Linked DNA regions of Homo sapiens: region 2 is linked to region 1. The links come from fine-mapping of genetic effects on gene expression. Tissue or cell type: whole blood. Region 1 holds a variant in brackets; the other region holds the start of a gene. All regions are shown on one strand. Distances are from middle to middle.

Region 1 (8,185 bases):
GATAAAGCCAGAATTTATAAATAGGTCATTTAAAAATGACATTTTGAAAAATCAGCTTGTAAACAGGTTGTAAGCATGTTAGGCTGCAATACCCTAGACTCTCTTTGCTCTGATTCTGTAGTACTCAACACATTTCTCATTATAATTTAGCTCACCAGAGAGATTTCTCTATTGGGAGAGAGTGCCCTGGCCAGAAAATGGGAGTATTTAATCTTCTTAGTGCTTCATTTATTTTTAGTAAAAATTAAGAAATTGGCCTTTTGGTTTATGCATTGGCCTTTTATGAGCTTGGCTAGTGTGAGTCCATTCTCAAGAGCCTTGAGAACTGAAGACCTGATTCTGGGCCTTGGGGACCCAGCCAAGATGCTGCCTTTAAAAGCTCCTATTTAGATGATGGACCACAAGACCTCTCACTGAGCTCCTTTGCTCAAAGACACTTTCCAGATGGGAAATGGAGCCTCATAAAGGTAGTGTTGCTTTCCTAAGGTCCTCACAACTGCTCAATAGTGACAAAGCTGAGATTGGAGTCAAAGTCTTCTGACTCTCACATCAGTGCTCTTTCCAATACACTGTATGTTGTTTCAGCTACAGGCACAAATTAGATCTTGGAGAGAAAGGGAGGAAATAAAAGTTGAGAGCAAGATTTGCTCCCTTAAGTTTGGTCCATATCAAATAGGAACAGCTATTATTTAAAACCAGGCAGAGTAGAAATGCCATCCACTATATTCTAGTAAGTGGAATACCAGTGGGTAATGAATCCAATTTCTGAGCTAAGAGCATTATTTGTTGCTGACTTTGTGACTGCTTTTAGTAGGAGCTATGTGCACACATCCCAGATCACGTTCACAGGGCCAGGAGCGGTACCACCCAGTGAAATATGACTAAGCAGCTCAGATTTGCTTGCTCTGTTGCACTATGTAATGACATTTCCACCAAAGTTCAGGGGTTAACAGAGGCAGTGTGCTCAGCTGTGAGAATTAAAGAATGTGATTCAAGATGAGCTAAGTTAATTTAAGATTTTGTTCAATAAGAGCAATAAGAACAAGGAAGAGCTGGAATGTTCCTAAATATTTGGAATCTTTTTTAAAAAACAGGCTTGAAATATAAGCTATATGTCCTTGTGGTCCCAATGTATCACTTGCTTTTCAGTTGATTAGACTTTTAACTCTTGAGTAATGGAACCTATTATAATCACCCCCAACCTTAAATTACCTTTAAATAGCAGTTGATTGGGTGTTACTGAAACCACATGACATTAAAGATGACCAGTTCTGAACCAGGGTAGGGTATGCCTTCTTTTCTTAACTAAGATGTGGCTAGACTGCTGTGACTGGTTAACTCAGGTGGTTAGAGCATGATGTCAAGAAAATCAGGAGGCTAGGTGTCATTGCACGTGGCACAGATGTTTTAGCTTGGTTCTGTAATCACGAGCTGGACCCCTACCAGACCAGGACCTCACAAATATGGATCGTGGCTCACGAGGCAGACCTGGTTCAACAAATAGGAGGAGCTTAGTGTAGCTTTTCCCCTCTTTTGGCAAATGTGGCCAAGTGCCTCCTAGGTGAAGGCTGACCCTTGAAATGGGAAGGACAGCACAGGAATTAGGCAAGGCCCCTGTGGAGACAGTCTTGTAATATGGAAAATTTTCTCTTTGCTACAATTAGTTGAATTAATCATTTTAGAGGCTATAACAAACTCGATGCAGATGATACAGATGCTACTTGTATTGACAGAAGCAAAGGATTTCTTTTCGCATACAGACTCATGGATTGCTTTTTCATTTTTTCTCTATGTCTCATGGAAACATAAGGTGTACATGCAGGGCTACAATGCCCCTCAGAGCATTTTCTTGTGTATCTTTATTGGCTCCATCATTTTCCTGCCCTGTGACTTAACTACTCTGAGTCTTAGTTTACTCATCCGTGGAATGGGGAAAATAATTGTACTGACATCATGGGCTTGCTGGGAGAATCAAATGCAAATAAAAAAATATATTTGTATCTTAGTCTGTTCAGACCACCAGAACAAAAAGCCATAAACCAGGTAGCTTATAAACAATGGAAGTGTATTTCTCATAGTTCTGGAGGCCAGAAATCCAAGATCAAGACATATTTAGTATCCTGGTGAGGGCCTACTTCCCTATTCATAGATAGTACCTTCTCTCTATGTCCTTACATGGTGGAAGGGACAAGGTAGCTCTCTGGGGCCTCTTGGATAAAGTCAACAATCCCAGTCATGAGAGCTATGCCCTCATGATCTAATCACCTCTAAATGCCACCACCTCCAAATACCATTATACTGGTGATTAGGTTTCAACATATGAATTTGGGAAGGGCACAAACATTCAGATCATAGCAATATGTATGTGATGTCCAAGCGTGGTGCCAGGAACATAGCAGGAGCTCAGTAAATCAGTAAACAGTAGCTATAAGATAAGTGAGGGAATGGAACAGGGAGTTGGGAAAGTTTATTCTCATATGCTTCCTGGCTTTTTGCAGTTTAGGGAAAGTGTCATAAAATAGCATACATGTTGAAACTGAGAACTACTCCAAAAGGTTCTATTTGTAATGCTATAGAAATATTAACTTCTTGCAGTTTACATTGGCAGATCCCCAATAATTCACAATTAACACCTGGTGTTTAGTGGTTTGCAAATAGGTTTTGCTGTCATTGGGGATATCTAGAATAAAAAGCTGTAGGGAAACATTTAAAAATTAAATGTCTGGGCTGGGCGCGGTGGCTCACGCCTGTAATCCCAGCACTTTAGCAGGCTGAGGTAGGTGGCTCACTTGAGGTCAGGAGTTTGAGACCAGCCTGGCCAACATGATGAAACCCCATTTCTACTAAAAATACAAAAACAAAAACAAAAACAAACAAACAAACAAACAAAAATTAGCCGGGCATGGTGGCAGGTCCCTGTAATCCCAGCTACTCGAGAGGCTGAGGCAGGAGAATTGCTTGAAACTGGGAGGCGGAGGTTGCAGTGAGCTGAGATCATGCCACTGCACTCCAGCCTGGGGGATACAGTGAGACTCTGCCTCAAAAAAAAAAAAAAAAGTTTGATTTCATCTACTGATGTAGGAATGCAACTTAGGTTGGCTATATGTAAATACTTAAAATATCTTTAATAAAGTTTAATCCCTGTCTGTCCTATTGGTTAGAGTAAATGTTTTTATTGTTGTTAGATTTGAACATTGCATCATCTGATTGCAGGAATGATACCTTGACACCATCTAGCCGTAGTCTAAGAAGTAATACTTTTTTCTTGTCTGAGTCACAGTAGTGGTAAGATGAATGGAGGGAGGGAATCCTGCTGTTCATCTGACCTTCACGGATCTAACTGGAACTAACTGGCTTTTTGTGCACCAAAATAGGTATAAAGAAAGTTCAGCTAATCTGGGACTCAGTCACAAACCAGAGACACTGAACAGACTAGTGAGGCTTGCACAGGGTACTAGAAGATGAGTATCATCATGACTTTGCCATGATTTGACTTTGACTTTGAAAAATTTCATTGAAAATGACTTTGGAAAATTACATACAGCATAAATGTGCAAATTTACATTACCTTTTTAACAAGTTCCAGTGCTTTGCAGACAGAAAAGGGAATTGGTTCTCTATTTTGGATGTATAAATGAGTGGGATTAGTCCTAGAAAAAGTGGTCTGTACTTTAATCTACCTTTCCTTGTTCTTCTCACACCCTCTCTACATTGGGGAATTCTCCTTTGCTTTCTCCTATTTGGGGACCAGAGCCCTTAGTCTTTCTCCACATCAACATCTCTAAACTTGGTCTCACACTGCT[C/T]ATTTCCACTAAGACATAAATAACTGATAGTGGCTGAAAATGTTGTGATCCCTCCAGATAATATTTCCATTTTCATAGGGGAGCTCTCTGAAGTGCATGGAAGAAAGATCTAGGGTGGAATTTTCAATATCATTCAATTTAGGACTTAGAAGGTATAGTGTGGTGAAGGGTGTTTGTGGTTGTATCTGATTCTCCAGCTACTCTGAAATAATAATGCTTAGGCGTTGCTTTCTCTAGCAGTTCCCAGAGGCTTCTTCCAACTCCTTCCTCTGTAGTTTCTAGTGCCTCAGAATAGGCTTGCAGCAAGAACAGTGTCCATGGATAAACTTGAGTATATTGGGGTTTTCTCAAAAGAGAACCGAGTACAGTTCAGGAAACTTCCCTCAAGCAGATGCAATGACTCTTCTTGATGCACATTTCATTTTCTGATTAGTTTATTTATTTTCAAAATCAGTCAAGTACTTGTACAAGTGAATAATACCAGTGTTGCCATGTATAGGCATTTAATAACCCTGGATAAGGAACAACTAAAACCAGAGGGAGAGGTTTTTTATCACAACTTTTGCTCTCATGCCTTATTCTGCTAATATTTAACTTCTGCTTATTATTTTAGATCTACTCATCTCTACCACACCCACCCAAAACATGTATCCACATGCACACACACATGCACACTCCCATTAGGACTGATGGGCTAAAAACAAGTGATTTTTTTTGCTTTGCTACTATTTTGGCATACATGTCATTAACATTTTCCCAGTTGATCAGTTCTAAGGGAGACTCAATAAGTCTGAAATCCCCGGAGATACTAGACACTCTCTCTAGTCTATTGCCTCTTGTTCACCCAGGCTTTGACAAACTAAAACAAAACTCTTGTCAATGTATTTCTGGAAAAGTTTGAATTTTATATTGTAGCATTCAGAAATATATTTGGAATGTGTTGTTGTTTAACTCTTTAGTAATATTAGCATTACTCTTTTACCAGAAATATATTAATGTCTCATTTTTAGATGCATCTGGGCTTTTTGGTCATTTTAACTTTGAATGCAAAATATTCATTGATTAAATGAATAAAGCAGTGAATCCTAGAATAGGCAGACTTGTGTAGGTTTGCATTTGCATGTATCTTTATTGACCCCCCAAAACGTGAAAAATTGATATTATATATTTTCACTCTAAAAACAGATTATAGGTTTTCAAGAACATGTACAAAAAAGATAGAAATTTGTCTTGATATGGTTCCCAGAAAATATGCAGCTTAAAAATGGAACAAATGGCTCTACCTAATGGGAAGACAGACCCTTTAAAATCCTATGCCCATTACCAATCATGTCCCATATGAAAAGGTACATTTTATTTCCATCACCACATTTGGGGAAAAAATGATGCAATCTGTTTTCTTTAAGAGACTTCTAGACATCCTGGAACAAAATGTTTTTAGAAGGGGCATTTCCATCCAGAAGGTGGGCATCTGGTTACCTTCAGATATGCATACTTACATTGTTGGCTGGCAAATTAATAGATTGTACCTGTGCATGAGAACACTTCTAATTTCAAATATACATATTTGAGACTCAATATATTTTAACACACTGACTACATTTCAAAGGTAACAGGTAAATTGTATTGAAAACAACATCTGATTGGTATCTTCACTGGGGACAATAGCATATCAGATTGACAGTTGACTGGTAAAGTGAAATGTATTTCCTTAATGTGTTTTTTGCCAAGAGTTGAGTAGTATTAGACAGGCCAGAGGTCATATTTGGGAAAGTCATCTAAAGCCAGGAAGAGCCCATAGGCCCAGGCAGGCAAATACTTGAATTCATGATGAGCTGAGAGGGGCAAGGTCAAACAGCAGAAACAGAACTGAAGCTGGGAGCAAAAGGCAGACCTGGGCAGAAAGTTTGGGCAACATGGAATTGGGATCCTAGGCAGTTGGGATGCAGCGGGTGGCAGTTGGGAGGAAGGAGAGCAGAGAAAAAGGCACTTTTGACAGTGACTCAACTAGGCACAGCTAATAAACTGTACAGATGCAACCATGTCAAAAAGGCTCCACCTCCTTATTTATGGACTGTCGAGGACATTATGTAGGTGATGGGCATTGATTGTAACCCATGCATATGAGCTTCCTGTAACTGGGCTGAAACTATTGATACATTCAGGCCAGAAGAGTGGGTCTGAGTATGCACTGTTTATTTCCTGGTGGGCGCTGCCTTCTCAGCTTGGCTCTCATTTCCCATTACTGCTTTGCTCTGACTCACTGATGGCCTGCCACATGTCATTAGGCGGCTCAACTGCTGCTCTCATTTCTCCCAAAGGTATATGGAGGTTTGTGTCTTGGCTTCTACACTTTTTTTTTTTTTTTTTTTTTCCGGAGAGCTGGAGGAAGTGGCCTTTTGATAGTTTTGTTTGTTGAGTTGAATACTTGTAGTGTCTTACGGTTTCAATTTTCCTTTCTCATAGATATTTGATCCTGATGACCTTTATTCAGGGGTCAATTTCTCCAAGGTACTGAGTACTCTTTTAGCTGTCAACAAAGCAACAGAAGGTAAGCCGGGCTTGTGATTTATATGTTCTGGGTGACATTTTTGAATCCATGTGTTTGTGATTACCCTAGGAGCCAACTCTGGCCAGGATTGTTCTCGTGATGCAAATTTTCCCCTTGCTCCCCCAAATACACCCCAACAAATGTCAAATGCTTGAATTTTTCATGGCTTAGGATTTAAAATATACCTATCATAGATGTTATTCTAATGCCCTTAATATAATGATAAGAACTAAGAAACTATTCCATTCAAAGCTCTGAATCACCAACTGAGTATAACAAAACAGAGAAGAAAAAGGAAAGACCAGTTCCCTTTTTCATAGAGTTTACAAAATACAGCCGTCACTTCCCTTTCCCCACTAGAGACATATTTTTCTCATTGTTTTATGTATGCCTTTGTCCATGTAAAGGAACCCCTCAGTAGCCTTGCACCAAAAATGAAATCTTGGGGTCATAGGGAGTGAAAATAATATCTTTTATTTAAATGTTTAACACCTACCACACTAGAGGTATTAAATATAAATGCTAGTAAATGTGAAGAAAATGATGATACACTTAGAATGTAGCTTCACTCCTTCCCTGGTATATTTTACCAACAGCTGAATAGTAATAATCATACTTAAAATGCTTTGAGCTCTTGCCCTGGATCTAGGCTGTCATAAGAGCCACAGGTGATCTCATCCAATCCTTGAAACAACACTGGGGGTAGGTATTATTATTATTAGGTCCATATTACAGATAAGGAAAGTCAGGCCAACAGTTGCCCAACTAGAAAGTTAGTCGCTGAGTTGGGATTCAGACCCACATCTGAATGACTACAGAGCCCTTATGCCCAAGCACGAGGCTTGCTGCTCAAACTGTTGTAGAGTCAAGAGGCTGTGTGCCCAGCATCGCCAGGTGCTACAAAAAATGTCAAAGCTATGGTCCCTGCCTTTGAGAAAATTACTGTCTATTTAAGGAGACTCAACTTACCCACGTGAAACAATTAGAGGACAAGAGCAGACAATATAATCAAGTGCCAAATAGGTTAGAGCATCTAGGAAGCTATCGAGTAATTATAGTTTTTGTCAAAAGAGCTGTATATAATAGCAATACAAGTAAAAATACTTCTCCAAAGTTGTTCTTTTGCTATTTGGAAAAAAAAATGCTTTTGAGCTATTGCAAGGCGTATAGCTGAAAGTACAGCTAATTCAAGTAACTATATTTAACACACATGACAACTATCCAGTTCTAGTCAGGGAGGATCGTGTAATTCTAACATTATGCCACACAAATTATACGTTCCTTTGCCAAACTCTCCTAGCAAGTTTTACAGTCTCTTCCCTTGCCACAGATATTTATAAAATACAAGGAGGTGAAAGTTAAAACCCACAGCATCAAGGAAATTACTTGGATACTGAGCTTGTCGCCTAGGGAATGTTTGGGCTTTAGACTTTTGCAGTTTATATCTTTTAAAAATAAATGGAGAGGAAAAGAACCCTTATTGAAATTTGTCAAGAAGCCAGCTCCTCTCTTTTGTATACTCTCAACAAACTGAAAACATCCAGCTCAGCTCTGGCCTGGTCGAATTTCACAAGGTTTCAAGGAAGAGAAGACTCTTGAATCTGATTGTTAAAAAAATTATTCTAGTATCAAGATTACATCTTTCCCAAACACATCTTCTCTTTCACTCTCATTCTCCACCCTGCCCCACACACATCAGGGAGATTTTACATCATATATGCCACACATATTGTTACGTGTGAGTAAGAAATGAGCCACTGAGTTATGGGCCAAAAAACAAAGAGAGAAATTTGAAATATTTCAAAGTAATAAGAGCCACAAACAGCTGTTT
Region 2 (8,185 bases), 31 kb before region 1:
GGCTCTTGTCGCCCAGGCTGGAGTGCAATGGCACGATCTCAGCTCACTGCAAACTCTGACTCCCAGGTTCAAGCGATTCTCCTGCCTCAGCCTCCAGAGTAGCTGGGATTACAGATGCCCGCCACCATGCCTGGCTAATTTTTGTATTTTTATTAGAGACTGGGTTTCACCATGTTGGCCAGACTGGTCTCAAACTCCTGACCTCAGGTGATTTGCCCACCTTGGCCTCCCAAAGTACTGGGATTACAGGTGTGAACCACCGTGCCCAGCCTACTACATAGTAATTTTAACAAGAAGAGTTTAACATAAAGAATTAACAATAACAGGGGATTGGAGTGTTGAAGAATTGGTTAGTAATAAATAAAGGAAACTCTAAAAAGTATGGGATAGCAGATATAAATAGCAGACAATATAAAAATAATATGTAATGGCCGATACCTCTAGAGCTGTGATAACCCTCCTCTCCACCCACGGTCGAGATCCAGGCCTTATTGGAGAAGTTGCTCTGGTGCTGAGTTGGTGGAACTTGTTGGATGTACATTCTCTGGAACTTGCTGAAATATACCCCTCTACGGTGCTGGTTCACATGGAAGGTGTCTGTCTCATCAGAGATTCTTTGCTGCCTAAACACTCAAGGGTAGTGCCTGGGGAGGTTGCTACCTACTGTTTGTTGGGAAAACCAGTGCTGCAGAAGGTGGGCAATAGGAAAGCTGGGAGCTCAGCAGGAGCTTGTGGAGTGAGCGCACAGAAAACAGGAAGTAAAACCCCTTCTTCCTGCAATGTCTCTCCACCACTGCCTACTGATAAAACTTTGTATCATGCCAGCTGGCAAAGTCAGAAATATTTCAAGGTCCCAGGTCCATTTCACAGAATAGGCATAAAGGGGAAATGAGAGGTAATAAATTGATTACAGGTTGAGAAGTTCAAGGAACTGAGAGGTCTTGATGTTGGATTGTTGTTCTTGTGGATATTGAAATGACCCAAGTGTTGGCAGAAATTAGAGTGGTGTAGAAGGTTAGAGACCAATAAACTCATTTCTCTAAGTGTGACCTTGGTCTATCTGCATCAGAATCAAGTGGGATACTTTGATAACACAAATTCCTTTTTCCCACTGCAGATCTTCTGAACTGGAGTATCTGGGAAGAGAGCTCCCAAATATTCTTTTTTAGTAAGTGCCTTAGTAGATTTGAAATGAAAGAGAATCGGTTAGTAACATTTTAAACACACAAAACTAAATAGTAAAACAGGTACCAGTGTACCCAGCATTCAGTCTTAACAAATGTTCACATTTGCCTTATTTCCTGAAGATCTTTTGATTTTTCATGAAATGTTACCTATTTTAGCTTAAGTTCCACTCTCACCTTCCTTTCTCCTTTATGCCTCACAGGAGATGATCATATGAACATTGTTTTTTGTCAATTCCTGCTTTAGGCAATAGAGAGCCTTTGAGGGTTTTTGAACAGGGGTATTAACACTAGAGGTGTTTTTGGAAAATCAACCCAAATGTGCCCTGTTAGAGAGTTCATTAGGATGAGAGGATGGAGGTGGAAAGCCCTTGAAGAGGCAGGTTCAGTGGCCCAGAGGGTGTGGTACTGAGGATCTGAGGTAGGGTGAGAGATCTTTGCTTTTTTTTCTCATGCTCTTGTGTGAAGCCTGCTCTTTGTGTTGCTGTGACCCCCAGTCTTTGAATTCCCCCTCTTCCCCTATTCCCTCAGTTCATCAGCTCCTTTCTAGCTTCATTTGAGTCCCTAACCAGCCTGGGTTTCATGGGTACCCATTTCACCTATATGCTTGCCACTGCCCTGGAATTCCTTGCTTTGTTGACATTTTACCACACCAACTGTAACTTCCAATCTTTATACAAATAGAACTGGTTCTTTTGCCTTGAGGCAGTGGCCTTGCCATTCTGATATACTTTATTACTCATAGTAATATTTGCTATAGTGAGTGTCCAAAATGAGGCAGAGTTTTATCCAGATGACCTTGGTGAACTCAAGACTGTTTTGGAGGAGGCTGGGTTCACAAAACTTACTCAGGCTTTGTTCTTCATCAGAAGATGTAAGTGATACCTCAATAATACTGCCAGATTTTGTTTGTCTGTAGAGTAAAATTTTGATGAGCAGTTGTGAAAACTGTTCAGATGACATATAAAAATGTGTTTAAGTTCGTCAGATTTGGGAATTTTATTTATCAACAAATGTATTCTGTTTTTATTTCCATTACATAGATTTGGCCATGGGTCAACGTCAATGAAAACTTTTGATTGATTATACTTATTTTGCTTAAGTCACAAGTACATCAAGCAAACCTTGTTATAGAACTATGGACAGACACAATAACATGAATGAGTATGAAAATGATGATGTTGAGTTAAGAAGCCAGAAAAAAGATAGTACCATACTGTGTACTTCCATTTATATAAGATTCTTGAAAATGCAAACTAATCTATAGACACTGAAAATAGATTGGTGGTTGCCTGGCATTTGGAGGCAAAGAGGAAAGAAAGAATTGAAAGGGCACGAGGACAATTTTGGGGGTGATGGAAAGGCTTATCTGGATTGCATTTGTGTGATTGTATCAAAGATGTATGTATATGTCAAAATTCATTAAATCATATATATGCAGTTCCTTATGTGTCAATTACAGCTTAATAAAATGGTAAAAATCATTAACAAGAAAAAATGTTTGTTTTAAGCCATTTAAACCAACCAACAAACAAAAAATCCTTGCTATAATCAGTTACTGTCTATATCAGGGACACCATCTGAATACATTCATTTATTCATTCAGCATTTTTTAACATCTACTGTGTATACCTGGCAGTCTGCTGGTAACACAGTGTTAAATAAAAAAAAACAAGACCCCGAGTTTAGGAAGTTTACATTCTTGTGGAGGAGTCAGATCATCAGATCAACAAGTGATAATAGTAAAGTGTGACAAGTGTCCTGACAGAGCAAGAAAGGGCAGCTTTGAAAATGTTTAGTAGGGTTATCTAAGCTGATTCTTTGGTAGTAGATGCCTGAAGCTGTGTTGAAAAGAATTCTGAGGCTTAGTAGGAAAGAGCTATACATGATCTGATGTCTCCCATGCACGAGGAGAGGTAATCATGGTAAGTGCCACACATTTGCCAACATAGGGTTATACTATTAAAGTTGGCCTTATCATAAATTTCCCAATAGTATGCCTATTTCAAGTGGTTCTGAAAATGTTTGAGAATGATGAAGATCTCTTGTTATAGACAGTTTTTTTTTCAGAGCAGTATTTTAAGTGCAAAGTGTTTTTTTGTTGTTGTTGTTGTTGGGAAAATAAGAATCTTCCATATTGTAGTGTAGACAGAGGACAAGTGCTCTTTTGTTCTCAAACATTCTATTTTTTCAAGTGTATTTTACCCACTTATGTGACTGAGTCTGAGCCTTTGCTAAGGGTACTGCAGCTGGATTATGTAGTGGAACCAGGTCCAGAAAAAGAATTGCTAAAGAATGCAAGTAAACAGGATGTCAGATGTTATCCTTAGCCTATTTCCCTAAACATAGCTTTTTGGCTGCAAAGTAAAATGCCATTCTTCTAGCTTCTGCTTATACACAGTGATGGCTGACAGCAGGCATAATCTTCGTTTGCTTGGCACGTTGTCACCATGCAACTCAACGTGTTTTGCAAGGAATGATCGTGACACACCATCTCTGGGAGATACTATGAGGACATCCGGCTATTTCTTGGAAGAATTTTCTGTCTACCTTCTTTGAGCCCTGTTGTGCCAGCACATCTCCCCATGAGGCTCAGATCTGTCTGACCTAAGAGCCAGTTGGCATCGTCCTCCTAACAGAAGCCAGATTTTCACTGGGGCTAGACTATTTATTGACAGTGTTTTCCCAGACTGGCCCATGAGTGTCTCATTTCCAAGGTCCCCTGAAGTGCTGGCTCACCTCTGTTTCCCAAAGCACTTGCTTGCTTGTCTCTCCTCCCTCCCCAGCATCCTTTTCACTTTCTTCCCTTATAACTTCTTGCACTCTGTGTGCGTGTGTGTGTATGCGTGTGTGCATGTGCGTTTCTTCTTTTTTTTTATCCTAACGAATTTGTTTTGCAGGTTTTGAAAAGGAAAAACCAGCGTTATCCAGGATTGTTAAATTAATTCTTATCTGTTTCCACATCTTGGACCGTGATCTCTGTGGTTTTAAAATCCCATATTTTGAGTGGGTTCCGCTGTTGTTTAAGAAAAGTTGCTTTAAACCTTTGCTCTGCAAGCACCCGAAGAGAACTCATAAAAAGGAAGACAACAGCAGATGCAATCGCGGATGTGGCTTAGTCCTTGCAGCTGCCCCAGAGTGCTGTTTGGAGTGTACCGTCCTCAGTAATGAATCCAGAAGAACAAATCGTGACATGGCTTATATCTTTGGGAGTTTTAGAGTCCCCTAAAAAGACCATCTGTGATCCGGAGGAGTTTTTAAAGTCCTCGCTGAAAAATGGGGTAGTTCTGTGCAAACTGATCAACAGACTCATGCCTGGCTCTGTGGAAAAGGTAAGGGAAATTTGCAGTCTCTTTGGGATTGCTTATCACCAGAGAGCAGCAATCATGTAACTCTTGAGATTTTTCTATTTCCCAGGCCATGGGAATCTCCTACTTTAATATTTTTCTAAGAGTTAGACATTCTTTCTTACTGTTTTTGTAGTTTGAAAATGTAAGAAAATGAAACGTTATTCTTTAGTAATTGGCCCCCAAATTGTAGTATAGGGAAAACCTGTGACACCACTGGCAACAAGGGACAAGGAGAACACTCATATCACAAGCTTGCTCTATCATGGAGATGCATGTTACATCTCCTTGTGTACCGAGGACATGTTTTGAACTTGGGGTACTTATGAGTCTGTGGAAAAATAGAATGATTTATAACAGATCTTGGTGGTGTTTATTGGCAGTTTGATTAAAATCAGTGTAGATTTCCTTTTAGAAAAATCCATTGAAGGAGAGACTATATAGCAACTAGGAAAAAAATAATTCAAAATGTCACATAAAGTTTGTAAAAGCAATAGAAACCAGATATATGTTTCGAATGCAATGTGCGTTCAAAGTGAAACTAACTTTACTCTCTTTAAAACAATTCAAGATTTTTAATAGCTGGAAATCCACGATCACGAGAATAGATAATTTCTAAAGTAGGCACTTTAAGTAAGCTTAAAGGTACAATTTTACATTTACTTTCTTAAGGTCATCATGGACTGTGAGCATAGCACTTTTGCCTTCATGAGCCAGTTTGTATTTTTATTGAGCAAATAAATTTACTTATAATTTCTTAAACTTGAGAAAGAGTGATTAAATAGTGATAAAATGTAAAGAAGTGTGGTCAAATGTAGAGGGGAAATAGAATTTTATTAAATTATCAGGGGGAAGGAGGAGAGAGAGGTACCAGGGATTGCTTCCTTTCTTGAAAGCAAGAACTAAGCTCAAAAAACTGTCTTGGTCTCCCTAATTTGCCATCAGCACACTGGAACAGAAGGCATGAGAGAAAGCTTGTAAGTAGACATGGCTTGCCACTAAAGGTTTGGTGACATTTGAAACAAAGATCGACCGTTTAGATTTTTGCATCACTTCCTTCAGTGGTTATTTCTCTTCCTGGATTGACAGCAGTGTTGCCCCACACCTTAAGAGGCCTGCTTTCTCTAGTTATCAGCAAATGATGAGTATACTTTGCTTGGCATGGGATGACAATCTCCAAGTGACATTTCACTGTGTTCCTCTAGTTTTGTCTGGATCCCCAAACTGAAGCTGACTGCATCAACAACATCAATGACTTCCTGAAAGGATGTGCAACCCTCCAAGTGGAAGTAAGCCTACCCCGGGTGCCTTCCCTGTTGTCATCGTTTTTTTGCTCTGCTAATCAAGATTGGTAGTAAGAGTACTTGTTTATTTTCACTGTCATTGGCCACTGAGTTAAACAGAGGTAGCAGACTGGTGGTCCCCAGTAATGGATTGCTAGTCTGTCTTTTCCAGAAACCAGTTCCAAGCAAAACAAAACAAAATAAAAACTCACACAATAATGCCTTTTATATACAGCATCCAAGCCCTGTAAACAGGCTTCCAGTGACAGAGCTTGTGTGGGTGTGTTCTCCTACTAAGGGGAACCAAAAGTGGGCCACTGACTGTTGGAGAGGGTCACTGTAATCCTCCCAAGTTGAGAAAAGAGGAAAGGCCATTGTTACTCCTTCCCATTAACACTTTAGAACAGAGGCCTTGAAAAGCTGAGAGAACTTGGCTTTGAGGTAGAAATTGTATAGTAAATTTTGTGGCATTATTTTATATTATATGGATCCCTACAGTGTGTATAGGAAGTGTTACTGAAAGGGAGGTGATACTTCCACACGAGCATCAAGTTGCTTAACTTCTCTGTGCTTCAGTATTTTTATCTGTAAAACGGACATGCTAATAGCCAACTCATGGGATTGCTTTAAGAATCAAATAAGGCCGGGCATGATGGCTCATGCCTTTAATCCTAGGCCAAGGCAGAAGGATTGCTATAGCCCAGGAGTTCGAGACCAGCCTGGACAGTATGGTGAAATGGTGACTCTACAAAAAATACAAAAATTAGGCAGGCGTGGTGGCTTGTGCCTGTAGTCCCAGCTACTCGGGAGGCTGAGGTGGGAGGATCGCTTGAACCCAAGAGGTGGTGGAGGTTGCAGTGAGCTGTGATTGCACCACTGCACTCCAGCCTGAATGACAGAAAGAGACCTTGTCTCGAAAAAAAAAAAAAGAATCAAATAAGATACTGCATAATAATTTAGGGCCAAGAGCTCCAACCTTGTAAGATCTATGAGATAATTTATGTAGAGTCCTTAGCATAGGGCCTGGGACAGAAGAAGTACTCTATATTAATAGACTAGTATTAGTCATATTATCCGTGGACAAATAGTTGTGGTTTAAGCATGGACTGTGGTGCTAAACTTTTTGGGTTCAAATCTCAGTTCTCTCTTACTAGCAGCTTTGTGACCTTGGGCATGTTACTTAACTATGACTCTAGGCCTCAGTCTTCCTACCTACAAAATGGGAATAATAGTGGCACCGAATTCATAGGACTCGTGTGACCTTTTTAAAAAATATTATTTCAATAGTTTGGGAGGAACAGGTAGGTGGTGTTTGGTTACATGGATAAGTTATTCAGTGGTGATTTCTGAGATTTTGGTGCATCCATCACTTGAGCAGTGTACACTGTACCCAATGTAGAGTCTTTTATCCCTCACCCTACTCCCACCCTTCCCCCTGAGTCCCCAGAGCCCATTACATCATTCCTATGCCTTTGCATCCTCATAGCTTAGCTCCCCCTTATAAGTGAGAACATATGATGTTTGGTTTTCCATTCCTGAGTTACTTCCCTTAGAATAATGGTCTCCACCTCCACCCAGGTTGTCGTGAATGCCATTATTTTGTTCCTTCTTATGGCTGAGTAGTATTCCATGGTGTGTGTGTGTGTGTGTGTGTGTGTATGTATACATATTATATATATGTATATTACATTTTCTTTATCCACTCTTTGGCTGATGGGCATTTAGGCTGGGTCCATAACTTTGCAATTGCAAATTGTGCTACTATAAATATGTGTGTGCAAGTGTCCTTTTCATATAGTGACTTCTTTTCCTCTGGGTAGATACTCAGTAGTAGGATTACTGGATCAAATGGTAGTTCTACTTTTACTTCTTTAAGGAATCTCCATACTTAAGGTTTTCCATAGTGGTTGTACTAGTTTACATTCCCACCAGCAGTGTAGAAGTGTTTCCTTTTCACCACATTCATGCCAACATCTAATATTTTTTGTTTTTTTTTTAATTGTGGCCATTTCTGCAGGAGTGAGGTGATATCTCATTGTGGTTTGATTTGCATTTCCAGTGCTTAGTGATGTTGAGCATTTTTTCATATGTTTCTTGGCCATTTGTATATGTTCTTTGAGAATTGTCTATTCATGTCCTTAGCCCACTTTTTGATGGGATTATTTGTTTTTTGTTTTTGTTTTGTTTTGTTTTTTGAGACTGAGTCTCACTCTGTTGCCCAAGCTGGAATGCAGTGGTGTGATCTTGGCTCACTGCAACCTCTACCTCCCTGGTTCCAGCGATTCTCCTGCCTCAGCCTCCTGAGTAGCTGGGAATACAGGCGCCCGCCACCATGCCTGGCTAATTTTTGTGTTGTTAGTAGAGACAGGGT

Evidence for each region. PIP is the estimated chance that this variant, and not a neighbour inherited with it, causes the effect.
Region 2: it holds the start of ARHGEF6, and the variant in region 1 is fine-mapped to the expression of ARHGEF6 in whole blood (TOPMed, PIP above 0.99). The same link has a PIP of 0.9 or more in blood mononuclear cells.

Annotation. Positions count from the first base shown.
Region 1 is chrX:136,745,677-136,753,861 of GRCh38, reverse strand. It overlaps ARHGEF6 (Rac/Cdc42 guanine nucleotide exchange factor 6), which reads left to right. Exons shown (of 22, transcript NM_004840.3): 3 at 6,270-6,354. Among named protein-coding and RNA genes, the nearest start is that of ARHGEF6, 31 kb to the left of the region's middle. The variant C/T (reference allele first, on the strand shown) is at 3,804.
Region 2 is chrX:136,777,049-136,785,233 of GRCh38, reverse strand. ARHGEF6 (Rac/Cdc42 guanine nucleotide exchange factor 6) reads left to right here and starts at 4,302. Exons shown (of 22, transcript NM_004840.3): 1 at 4,302-4,516; 2 at 5,737-5,820. The coding sequence starts at 4,352. RefSeq lists an enhancer at 5,647-5,866.